Regions from separate parts of the Homo sapiens genome. Here all the other regions are linked to region 2. The links come from fine-mapping of genetic effects on gene expression. A gene starts in region 2. Each other region holds a variant in brackets. All regions are shown on one strand. Distances are from middle to middle.

The links. PIP is the estimated chance that this variant, and not a neighbour inherited with it, causes the effect. A credible set is the group of variants that fine-mapping cannot tell apart.
Region 1: its variant is the best candidate, but not a certain one, in a credible set for the expression of FNBP1 in whole blood (INTERVAL, PIP 0.68).
Region 3: its variant is the best candidate, but not a certain one, in a credible set for the expression of FNBP1 in Th1 cells (Schmiedel 2018, PIP 0.87).

Annotation. Positions count from the first base shown.
Region 1 is chr9:129,911,746-129,915,984 of GRCh38, reverse strand. It overlaps FNBP1 (formin binding protein 1), which reads left to right. Exons shown (of 17, transcript NM_015033.3): 11 at 5-19. Among named protein-coding and RNA genes, the nearest start is that of MIR6855, 44 kb to the right of the region's middle. The variant G/A (reference allele first, on the strand shown) is at 2,570.
Region 2 is chr9:130,041,366-130,045,604 of GRCh38, reverse strand. It overlaps FNBP1 (formin binding protein 1), which reads left to right and starts at 2,416. Exons shown (of 17, transcript NM_015033.3): 1 at 2,416-2,653. The coding sequence starts at 2,630. RefSeq lists silencers at 2,154-2,713, 2,894-3,053.
Region 3 is chr9:129,905,270-129,909,508 of GRCh38, reverse strand. FNBP1 (formin binding protein 1) reads left to right here. Exons shown (of 17, transcript NM_015033.3): 12 at 510-619. Among named protein-coding and RNA genes, the nearest start is that of MIR6855, 38 kb to the right of the region's middle. The variant T/C (reference allele first, on the strand shown) is at 2,391.

The DNA of each region.
Region 1 (4,239 bases), 130 kb after region 2:
GAAGCTTTCTCTCAAGCTGGTAAGCACAATTGTTCCATGCATGTCCTGAGTCTAATCAGGTTTTCTGGCGTGTCTTTTATGAATGCTATGCCATGCACAACGTATCTTCAAAGTTAACTTGGTTTGTGTTTCTCTTACGTGTGCTTTTGTTGGTGTTTCCTTATTAGACTTCTTGGATACAAAGGTCCAGAATCTAATAGAGGTGATCTTAATCTTTTCAAGTTGCTAAGAAAATTAACATTTAACTCACGACTTGGTGTTATTCCTGGGGCCTTGAGAGGAGGACAAATGTTAAAGTGTCTATATAAATATTAACGTAAAGGCCGGGCGCAGTGGCTCACGCCTGTAATCCTAGCACTTTGGGAGGCCAAGGTGGGTGGATTGCCTGAGCTCAGGAGTTCGAGACCAACCCGGGCAACACGGTGAAACCCCATCTCTACAAAAAACCAAAAAATTAGCCGGGCGTGGCAGCGTGCGCCTGTAGTCCCAGCTACTTGGGAGGCTGAGGCAGAGAACTGCTTGAACCCGGGAGGTGAAGGGTGCAGTGAGCCGAGATTATACCACTGGACTTCCAGCCTGGGTGACAGAGCAAGACTCTGTCTCCAAATATATATATATGAACGTAAATATTAAATCTTGGGGGGTGTCTGTTGGATCATTTTGAATAAAAGTAAATTAATAGTTGAAAAATGTTGCTATTAGAGAACCATAGAAGTAGATGAAAAAATCTGGGAGCCTGGAGGAGCTGTGCAGGAATGATCCCAGCCAGCAGCTGCTACCCAGGTTTGAGGCCACCTGTGGGAATGGAAGACTGTGGAATCTTTATGGTGCGACGTAGATATGTTGGTGCCTTGTGCATAGCTGATTCAAGAGGCCACAAGATGATTTCATGGACAGTGAAAAGAGCCTCCTAAGCCTTTTTAGAATTATTCACTCAGTGTTTTGTGTCGTTTCTACTTAATTGTATATGCCTAGTCAACAGTCAAACTAATCATTAAATTTATTAAAAGTAACTAACATAACCTATAACTATACTTCAAATATGTATAATAGTTTCATAGTCTTCTCAAACTCCACAGCTAAGAATATCCTAAAATAATGGACAGTGATCAACTGTGACAGTTCTACTAGGAGTAAGATCAGCACTATAAGCACACTATTGATAACCTAGGATAGTATTTTATGGTGAGATATATATATATATATATATATATATATATATATATAGACATATGTATGTATATACATAATTTTTTCAACATGACTTAGTATTTGGTAATGGACCCAACCTTAAAGAAAAAGAGTATTTTATTAAATTAAATAAACATTTCTTAGGCTGTGAAATAAAATCCTGAGAAGAGTCTTTGATTAAGGTCTCTACATGAAGGAAAGAGATCTAGATACTTAAATGAACTACAAGTTCATCTGCAGTATGAACTTGGGAGAAACTGGATCTATTGACTAGGAGGCCTTCTCAGCTGCCAGGGTTTCCTTATTTCCCTTTATTCATTGTTTGTCTGGGTGCTAGGAGCAAAAGGTAATATTTTTAGGCAGTCTTTCTGTTTGAAATACAAATTATTTTACCAACTTGGTATTGAATTGTTGCTTTATATCATTACCTTGAAGGCAACAAAGAAGTGAAGCGCTGGCTGGGCACGGTGGTTTGTGCCTGGAATCCCAGTGCTTTGGAAGGCTGAGGCAGGAAGATTGCCTGAGCCCAGGAGCTCAAGGTTGCAGTGAGCTATCATTGCGCCACTGCACTCCAGCTTGGGTGACAGAGTGAGACCATGTCTGAAAAAAAAAAAAAAGACAAAAGAAAAAAGATGTGGGACCAGGTGTGGTGGCTCACGCCTGTAATCTCTGCACTTTGGGAGGTGGGGGCAGGCAGATCATTTGCGCCCAGGAGTTCTAGACCAGCCTGAGCAGCATGGTGAAACCTGACTCTACAAACAAATACAAAAATTAGCCAGGCATGGTGGTCTGTGCCTGTGGTCCCAGCTATACTGGAGGCTGAGGCAGAAGGATTGATTGAGCCCAGGAGGTTGAGGCTGCTCCAGCCTTGGGTGATAGAATGAAACCCTGTCTCAAAAAAAAAAACTATAAAACAAAACAAAAAACCCAAAATCTGAAAAAGTAGTATTACACGGAGCTTGTGCTATTTTGGGGTGGGGGGAAGCTGTCAACAAGCAAGGGTTTGATTTTTTTTTCTTTTAGGAGACAGAGTCTCGCTCTGTCCCCCAGGCTGGAGTGCAGTGGCGCGATCTCGGCTCACTGCAACCTCCACCTCCTGGGTTCAAGCGATTCTCATGCCTCAGCTTCTCGAGTAGCTGGGATTATAGGGGCGCGCCACCACACCCAGCTAATTTTTGTATTTTTAGTAGAGACGGGGTTTCACCATGCTGGCCAGGCTAATCTCGAGCTCCTGACCTCAGGTGATCCGCCCACCTCAGCCCCCCACAGTGCTGGGATTACATGCGTGAGCCACCAGGCCCGGCCAGGTTTGATTTTATTAGTACATAGAACAAGCTTCTCTTACAGAACTCCAGCCACTTAAAACATAGGTACATGT[G/A]TATGACCCTCTCTTCCCATACCAACTCCTCCTGTTATGGCCTGTCTTTGTTGTTTTCTTATCTATTTATAAGTTATCAGTACAATGTGTTTTACTGATAGATTTCTTTGCACCTGTTTATACACCTGCACAGAGGCTAAAGCTGTTGTCCAGTGTGGTAGCCACTACCATATGTAGCTATTGAGTTTTTTGTTTTTGTTTTTGTTTTGAGATGGAGTCTCGCTCTGTCACTGAGGATGGAGTGCAGTGGCATGATCCTGGCTCACTGCATCCTCCGCCTCCCGGGTTGAAGCGTTTCTCCTGATTCAGCCTCCCGAGTAGCTGGGATTACAGGCAACTGCCATCATGCCTAGCTAATTTTTGTAGAGACAGGGTTTCACCATGTTGGCCAGGCTGGTCTTGAACTGACCTCAGGTGATCCGCTCACCTCGGCCTCCCAAAGTGCTGGGATTACAGGTGTGAGCCACCACGCCCAACCGCTGTTGAGTTTTAATTAATTAAAATTAAATAAATTTTTAAAAATTCAGTTCCACAATTTCACCAGCCACATTTCAAATGCTTCACAGCCACACATGGCTTCTGTGTTGGAAAGAGCGGCCATAGAACATTGCCATCACTGTAGAAAGTTCTGTTGGACTCACAGCACATAGCAAGGCTCAGCACATATTAACGAGGTGAATGTTGACCACTTGCCAGATTTTGTGACTTTTTTTTTTTTTTTTTTTGAGATGGAGTTTTACTCATGTTGTCCAGGCTGGAGTGCGCAGTAGCGCAATCTCAGCTCACCACAACCTCCACCTCCCGGGTTCAAGCGATTTTCCTGCCTCAGCCTCCTGAGTAGCTGGGATTACAGACGGGCGCCACCACGCCTGGCTAATTTTGTATTTTTAGTAGAGACGGGGTTTTTCCATGTTGGTCAGGCTCGTCTCAAACTCCCGACCTCAGGTGATCCACCCGCCTCGGCCTCCCAAAGTGCCAAGATTACAGGCATGAGCTACCGCGCCTGGCCTAGATTTCCTGATTTCTGAAGCAGTGTATCTTAGCATTGTGTTTTGCTGTATTCCAGCTTTTAAAAAATTCTCAGTTCTGGAAAACATGCTCATTTGATAAAACTCAAACCGTTTTTCCTCTGCTGTTCCACTATGACAATCAACAGAGAAGATTTCTGTGACCAAATATGTGGAGGCTTCCGCTATATATCAAGCAGCAGACACTAGCTGGGTGTCCTTTAATTCAATTCCATTCTGATGCTATCTACCTGGAGATAGTGGCTGATCCTGGGGGTTGAGGGCTCAGTCCTGAAGGACTGCCCCCTCCTTCCCACCAGTCGCAAGTCCAGGCTTCCAGGACTTCTGATGGACTAGCTTCAAGTTGGGGTTCCCCTGACCCTCTCTTTGGGTTCAATTAATTTGCAGGAGCAGCTCACAGAACTCAGGGAAACACTTATATTTACTGGTTTGTTTTTGGGTTTTTTTTTTTTTTTTTGAGACAGAATCTCGCCCGTCGCCCAGGCTGGAGTGTAATGGCGTGATCTTGGCTCACCACAACCTCCGCCTCCCAGGTTCAAGCAATTCTCCTGCCTCAGCCTCTCAAGTAGCTGGAACTACAGGCGGGTGCTACCACACTCGGCTAATTTTTTGTGTCTTTAGTCGAGACAGAGTTTCTCTATG
Region 2 (4,239 bases):
TCCTATAACTAACAATCTCCTGCTTACTCGTCTTAAAAAGTTTCATCTTCATGTGGTCTCTTTTTTTCTTCTGCTGTCCCTTCCTCTTCCTCTTTCTCCTCTTTAAAGCAGCAGGTTGTTTTACTTCTTGATTAGAGTATTTTCACAAGTGGTCACTGTTTTTGAGAAGTCTCCAATAACTTGGTCAAGATTAGATCATTGTATTTGACTAAAAAGTCAAGCCCTGGCAGGAAGGTGATTACTGAGGCAATGTCTTGTTAGATAAACCTGCATTGCATGTACCGTTTCCAAATTTTAGCAGACTAAACTGTGCAGCATTGTTTGAATTTCCCCCTCCAACTCACTCTGGCTATTAATCTGCCTTAGGAGATAGGTAGCTGGCCGTTCTCATTGTTATATATCTAGCAGTCTCTGGAGGAAAGAGAATTCAGACCTGGTAACTGAGAGCAAAATATTTATACAGACACAAGAATGGGGGTGGGCAGGAAGGGAGGGTTGTAACTGAAAAAAGGCAGACCAAAACAGTTTTGACAACTTAAATTTATTGTAACTGCCCAACAAAGGAAGTAGAGTTGGAGGTTTATCTGCAAGAGGTTTTTTTTTGTTTTGTTTTTTGTTTAGTAGCTCCACCTCTTAATTTATTATTATTATTCATTTTATTTTATTTTTTGAGACAGTCTCGCTCTGTCACCCAGGCTGGAGTGCAGTGGCACAATCTTGGCTCACTCCAACTTCTGCCTCCCGGGTTCAAGCGATTCTCTTGCCTCAGCCTCCTGAGTAGCTGGGATTACAGGCGCCCTGTCACCACGCCCAGCTAACTTTTGTGTTTTTAGTAGAGACGGGGTTTCTCCATGTTGGCCAGGCTGCTCTCAAACTCCTGACCTCAGATGATCCACTCACTTCTGCCTCCCAAAGTGTTGGGATTACAGGCGTGAGCCACCATGCCCGGCTTTAATTCATTATTGTTAATATTTTTGAGACAGGGTCTTGCTCTGTTGCTCAAGCTGGAGGGCAATGGCACCATCATGGCTCACTGCAACTTCAACCTTCTAGGCTCAAGCGATCCTCCTGTCTCAGTCTCCCAAGTAGCTGGGACCACAGGTGCATGCCACCATGCCCAGCTAACTTTTTTTTTTTTCTTTTTGTAGAGACAGGGTCTTGCGATGTTGCCCAGGCTGGTCTCAAATTCCTGGCCTCCAGCCATCCTCCCACCTGGGCCTCCTGATGTGCTGGGATTACAGGCGTGAGCCACCAGACCCGGGTTAGCTCCACCTTTTAATGGAGGAGAATGATAAGCAGGTTGAAAATGGTGGGGTGGGATTGGAGAAATGCATCATCGTAAAATATTTTTTAACTGGGGGCCCATGTTGGGAGTCGCACGGTTTCTCAGAAAAGGATCCAGTAGTAGCATTAACCGAGGGAGAAAGATAAGCTGTGGGGAAAGGGCTAGTGATTCAGGAGTTGGAATTCCAAACATTTTCCATAGCTTGTCAGGAACATTTGTGCAGACCTTTGGATATATAGAGAGGGAGTCCGTCTGCTGATAAAATGAGCGCTGGGTTTACCAACCTTCGGCCTTGGCCCACCCCTGATCCTCACCGCCGGGCAGTGAGATGGACACGTTATTTGCCTCCATTTGGTGGACTGCGCTCTGCGCTTCCAGAGGTGGAGCAATTGTCCGCCTCCGCCCGGCCAGCACGTGCGGGAGGCTGGATTTGAACCAAACAAGTTATCTGTGTACCCCACGCCTTTGCTTTTACCCACTAGGCGGTAACGTGATTTCACGCCTGAGAGTTTCTTGGCTGAACAAGTTGGAAATCACTGGTTTCAGAGATTGGAAATCACTGGGTGCACGCCCCTGGATTCTTTCCCTAGCCACTCGAGGCCGTCGCGCTTGCCTCGACGTCTCTATTCGCACAGCGCGCAGTTACCACCGCCCCACTCCCACCGCGCCAGCCTGCGGGACTCTCGGGCTTCCCTCGGGCGGTGGGAAAAGAGCCTCCCGGGCTGACTCTGCTCGGCGCGCATGGCTGCCAGGGGAAAGTATTGTCCTTAAATCCAGAGCGGCGATACGCGCAGGGGAGCGATCTCAGACCGCGGCGGAGCATCGGTGATCCCAGGGCCTGCCGCGTTCCAAGGCAAGCGCTAGTACTGCGAGCAGACAGTGGTCACTAAGAAGTCATTACCAGATTGGCAGGGGGAGTCCTAGGGATCCGGGTCCCGCCGTCCCTCACACCTCCCTCCGCGTCCTTCCGGACCCCAGGGCGACGCGGACCCGGCCGGGGGAGCCCGGGGGAGGGGGCCGGGCCGGGGTGGGGCGGGCGCGCGTGCGCGAGCTGTCAGACCGGCCCCGCCCCTCCCCTCCCGCCCCTCCCCCGCTCTCCGGGTGTAGGGCGGGCGGGCGCTGCGGCGGCCGCGGCTGCTGCTTCCTCGGGCCATTTTGCTGTGGAGCGGCGGGGAGGAGGAGCCGCCGAGGAGACCCCGGGCGAGGAGCTGCGAGCCGGAGGAGGCCGCGCGGACTCCGGGCTTTCCGCCGTCGCGGGGATCTCGGGGGGCAAAGGGATCGCCGGGGAGGGGGACCAGAGAGCCGCGCCCGCCGCGCGGAGCGCCCCTTCGCGTCCCCTGCACCATGAGCTGGGGCACCGAGCTCTGGGTGAGTGAGGGGCTGGGCCCGCGGGCAGATGCGGGGCGCGCGCTGCGTTTCCCCGCGGCCTGGGGAGGGGGCGCGGGCCGCGCTGCTGGGCGGAGGCGAGGGCGCGCTGGTCGGGGTCCTCGCGGCCTGGGGAGGAGGCGGGGTTCCAATGCCCCTCGTCCGCCTTGGCCCGAGCAGGAGGTGCGGGCCGGCTTGTCCTTCGGAGGCGAGGGGAGTTGGTGCGGGTCCCCGGCGGCCTGAGGAACGGCGCGGGCGGGCCTCCCTGTCCCCGGCGCCCCGGAGCGGGCCGTGTGTGTCGGGCCGAGCCCTAATCCCCCGGGGCGAGCCGCGGATGCCCGGGGAGGGCCGGGACCGGGCGTGGGGGCGTGGAGGCCCCGGCTGCGCGGCGCTGCGTTGGGTCTCGGGGCGCCCCGGCCGCGAGTTCTGTCCTGGCTCCGCGGAGGCGCTGGCGGATCGGGCACTTCCCCGGGAGCGGGGCGGCCGGGGCGAGCGCCGGGGGTCGGGTTTTGGGGTGCTGGGGCGAGAGTGCGGTCTTCGCTCTGGAGGCGAGGACTTCTGGCCCGTGGCGGCTCCGGGCGCACTTGTTCTTTCGGGGTAGCTCAATCCTGAGTGGGATGTGGGCACTGCGACGTCTGGTCTGGAGGGGAAAGTGGGAGTTAGGGAGAGATCTTACGTGATCTACCTCAGGAAGAGGCGTTCGCGGGGTCAATGATCTTTAACGGTTGCTCGGAGAATAGTTTCCAGTGGGGAAAGTTGGCGGTGAGGGGCGCCTTGCGGGGATGCTTGGCCGGGGGATGCGCACGGTAAACGGGCAGCCCTCAGGGCTGAGGGCCGTCCCCGGAAAGGCGAGGGGCTGGCTGTGGATGGAGCTCTTTTCCTGCCGTCCCCGGATTCCTGGGGAAATCACTGGGCAGGGGATGGGCAGTGCGGCGGCCCGGGAAGGAGCAGACGAAATCTCAGTTACTGCACTGAAATGCCCTCAAGATGAGCCATTTCCCAGGATGAACTCTAAAGTGCCTGAACTACCTTTTGGAATTCTATTTGCAAAGGGTGTGGAGGAGAAAGTGTAGGGTGGTGTTGCTATCTGAGATGAGGCCAAGAAATCTCATATCAAAATAAAACAAGGTTAGAGCAATTACAGAAACAGAGCACATCCTCCCTTGTTTTTTGTTTTGTTTTCTTTTGCTTTAATTGTTTTTACATAACCATTTGTTAGGTACAGAAGCAGCTACGGTTGTTATTACCAAAATCCTGAGGGCAATAGCTCCCTTAAATTAAGATAATTCATTTTATAAACATCTTCTGCCTAAAAGGGATTCATGACAAAATTTCCGCTGATGTTTACAAGTATCCATTTTGAAAATAAAATAGTTTAAAATATTTGCACACACCAGTTTAGGCAAAATCTATGACTTTGAGTACCGTATTGAAGTTTCTTTCCTCTTCTAATCCTTCCACTCCCTTTAGCTCTCTTTAGCTTATCTGGGGTGGGGAAGCAAATCAGAAGTAATCTTTGTCAAGACAGTAGAAATTGTGGCACAATTTTTTTTTCACTTGTTCAGACAGGTGGATGGAATTATGGAGGG
Region 3 (4,239 bases), 140 kb after region 2:
ACTTTACAGGGGTGGAGACTTTTGGCCTCAGCCTGTGTGAAGAGACTGGCAGGAATACTCACGCTAGGGAAAAGGCAGCAGCTAGGCGTGCAGTGGTTGATGGGGTTTGTATTAAGGAAACATAAATTTCATTAACACTTCAGTGTTGCCACTGACATTGATGGTAACACTTGGTAGGAAAAGGAAGAAGACTGTCTCAAAATGTGTTTTTCATGGATTCTCCCTAGAGTCAGAAGTATCTCTTACTCTCCTTTACTGTAGCGTTGCTCACTGCTTTTTCTGGGGCATTCTGGCCAGCATCCATGGAACTGGGAATGGTTTATGGGACTTATGCAGTTTGCATGCATTGATTTTTGCATCTCGGCTGGGTGTAGTGGGAAAGAGCTTAATCTATTTCATGAAGCCACATGCAGATGTCTGCACCCCCCATGGCTGCAGGCTTTGCTTTCAGCCTTCTTTCAAGGAAAGCCTGGGGCTTTCTGGTTTCTCATTTATATTTGTGTCTGCAGGGTGCAACACCGGAGGATTTCAGCAACCTCCCACCTGAACAAAGAAGGAAAAAGCTGCAGCAGAAAGTCGATGAGTTAAATAAAGAAATTCAGAAGGAGATGGATCAAAGGTATAGTGCATCAATATGACTTATTAAGAAATTCAAGGCCAGGCGCAGTGGCTCACAACCTGTAATCCCAGCACTTTGGGAGGCTGCGGTGGGTGGATCACCTGAGGTCAAGAGATCAAGACCATCCTGGCCTACATGGTGAAACCCCGTCTCTACTAAAAATATAAAAACTAGCCAGGTGCAGTGGCACACGTCTGTAGTCCCAGTTACTCAGGAGGCTGAGGCAGCAGAATTGCTTGAACTCAGGAGGCAGAGGTTGCAGTGAGCCAAGATCATGCCACTTCACTCCAGCCTGGGCAACAGAGCAAGCCTCTGTCTCAAAAAAATAAAAAATAATAATAATTAAAAATAAAATAAAAATTAAAAGAAAAGAAATTCAAGTTCAGGCTGGGCATGGTGGTTCACACCTGTAATCCCAGCACTTTGGGAGGCTGAGGCAGGAAGATCGCTTGAGTCCGGGAGTTCAAGACCAGCCCAGGCAACATAGCAAAAACCCTAAAAAAAAAAAAAAGAAAAAAACTAGCCAGGCATGATGGTGTGCACCTGTAGTCCCAGCTATTTGGGAGGCTGAAGTGGAAGGATCACCTGAGCCCAGGAGGTCCTGGCTGCAGTGAGCTATGATCATGCCACTGCACTCCAGCCTGGGCAACAGAGTGAGACCCTATCTCAAAAAAAAAAAAAAAAAGAGAGAGAGACCAGCCTTGGCAACATAGTGAGACCCCATCTCTACAAAAATAAACAAAAGTAGCTGGGTGTGATGGCACACCTGTAGTCCCAGCTACTTGGGAGGCTGAGGTGGGGAGAATTGCTTTAGCCTGGGAGGTGGAGGCTGCAGTGAGCTGTTTGCTTAAGAATCAAAACCCAGCTGGGCACAGTGGCTCACACCTGTAATCCCAGCACTTTGGGAGGCCGAGGCGGGCAGATCACAAGGTCAGGAGATCGAGACCATCCTGGCTAACACGGTGAAACCCTGTCTCTACTAAAATTACAAAAAATTAGCTCGCATGGTGGCGGGCGCCTATAGTCCCAGCTACTTGGGAGGCTGAGACAGGAGAATGGCATGAACCCGGGAGGCGGAGCTTGCAGTGAGCCGAGATTGCGCCACTGCACTCCAGCCTGGGTGATGGAGCGAGACTCTGTCTCAAAACAAAACAAAAAAATCAAAACCCATTTGCCATAAAGCAGAGATGCCATAGAGGAGGAGGGCCTCTGTGAGGGGAAGGTGCATTCATTAAAACAGCTGTAGGAAAAGCCAGTCAAATAACACACACACACACACACACACACACACACACACACACACACACACCCTCACTCCTAGCAAGAGCTAAGGATCTGTCTCAAGAGGTATACCACTGCATTCCACCTTGGGCAACAGAGCAAGACCCCGTCTCCAAGAAAAAAGCACAAAGTAGGATGATAGATGTTAAATACCAAGCACTCCAGATACCCTGGGGTCAAATCTGGCTCTATCAGTTACTACTGCTGATGTGTCAGTGTGCATAACATGCTTGGAACCGTGCCTGGCACATAAGTGTCTGCGAAATAAAATGAATCAATATGTTAAAGGTAAACAAACTACGTGTTTCAATTAAAAGATATTCTCAGAATGGACCAAAAAATTAAAAACCCAATACACAAAGCAATGTATGCTATCTACAAAAGACACATCTAACTTATAAGCTCTAGAAATGTAGAAGTAAAAAAATGGGAGAGAAGATATACCATGCAAGGGCCAATCAAAAGGAAACTGGTGTTACAAGGCTGGCTT[T/C]TGGGCTGAATAAAAGGAAAGAAAAAAAAAAAACGTGCTTGGGCCAGGCGCAGTGGCTCACGCCTGTAATCCCAGCACTTTGGGAGGCGGAGGCGGGCGGATCACGAGGTCAGGAGATTGAGACCATCCTGGCCAACATGGTGAAACCCCATCTCTACTAAAAATACAAAAATTAGCTGGGAGTGGTGGTGTGTGCCTGTAATCCCAGCTACTAGGGAGGCTGAGGCAGGAGAATCCCTTCAACCAGGGAGTCAGAGGTTGCAGTGAGCCAAGACTGTGCTGCTGCACTCCAGCCTGGCAACAGAGCGAGACTCTGTCTCAAAAAAAAAAAGTGCTCAAAGTTAGTATAGAAGACTTAAATTATACATTTAGTAACATTGACCTAATACATAAACATCTAACAACTGCAGGGCACACACTGTATTAGCCCATTCTCATGCTGCTAATAAAGACATATTTGAGGCTGAGTAATTTATAAAGAAAAAGAGGTTTCATGGACTCATAGTTCCACATGGATAGGGAGGCCTCACAATCATGGCGGAAGGCAAAGGAGGAGCAAAGGCATGTCTTACATGGTGGCATTCGGCAGAGCTTGTGCAAGGGAACTGCCCTTTATAAAACCATTGGAGCTCATAAGACTCACTATTACGAGAGCAGCCTGGGAAAAACCGCCCCCATGATTCAATTACTTCCCACTGGGTCCCTCCCATGACACATGGGGATATGGGAGCTACAATTCAAGATGAGATTTGGGCCAGGGCACAGCTAAACCATATCAACACTCTTTTCAAGCCCACATAAGAACATTTTCAAAATTGAGTATATCTTTGTTTCACAAAGCAAATCTCAATAAATATCAAAGGAAATGTATCATTCAAGCTATATTATCTATATTCTGCAATTAAGCTGGATACCAATAACAAATATTAAGAAATTGGCCAGGCGCGGTGGCTCATGCCTGTAATCCCAGCACTTTGGGAGGCTGAGGCAGGCAGATCACCTGAGGTCGGGAGTTCAACACCAGCCTGACCAACATGAAGAAACCCCATCTCTACTAAAAATACAAAATTAGCCAGGCGTGGTGGCGCATGTCTGTAATCCCAGCTACTCGGGAGGATGAGGCAGGAGAGTCGCTTGAACCCAGGAGGCAGAGGTTGCAGTGAGCTGAGATCGCGCCATTACATTCCAGCCTAGGCAACAAGAGCAAAACTCAGTCTCAAAAAAAAACAAAAAAAAAAAGAAATATGCCTCTAAATAAGCCACAAACTAAACAAAAAATCATAGTAGATATTAGAAAGTATATGAAATAGAATTGAACTTTAACATACATTCTATATATAGTTTGTGGGATGTCCTTAAAGCCACGCATATAGAGAGATTTATTGCTCTGAATGCATATTAAAAACAGAGGTAAAAATCACTGAGCCTTAGCTCACTTAGATCCTCACTTACGATCTATCTCAAGAAGTCGGAAAAAGAACAGCAAATTAAGCCCAAAGGAAATAGAAGCGGCTGGGCATGGTGGCTCATGCCTGGAATCCCAGCACTTTGGAGACTGAGGTGGGTGGATCATCTGAGGTCAGGAGTTCAAGACCAGCTTGGCCAACATGGCAAAACCCTGTCTCTACTAAAAATACAAAAATTAGCTGGGCATGATGGGGCGCCTGTAGTCCCAGCTACTCAGGAGGCTGAGGCAGGAGAGTCGCTTGAACCCGGGAGGCAGAGGGTGCAGTGAGCCAAGATCATACCACTGCATTCCAGCCTAGGCGACAGAGTAAGACCCTATCTCAAAAATAATTAACAAAATATATATATATATATATACACACACACACACACACACAATTCA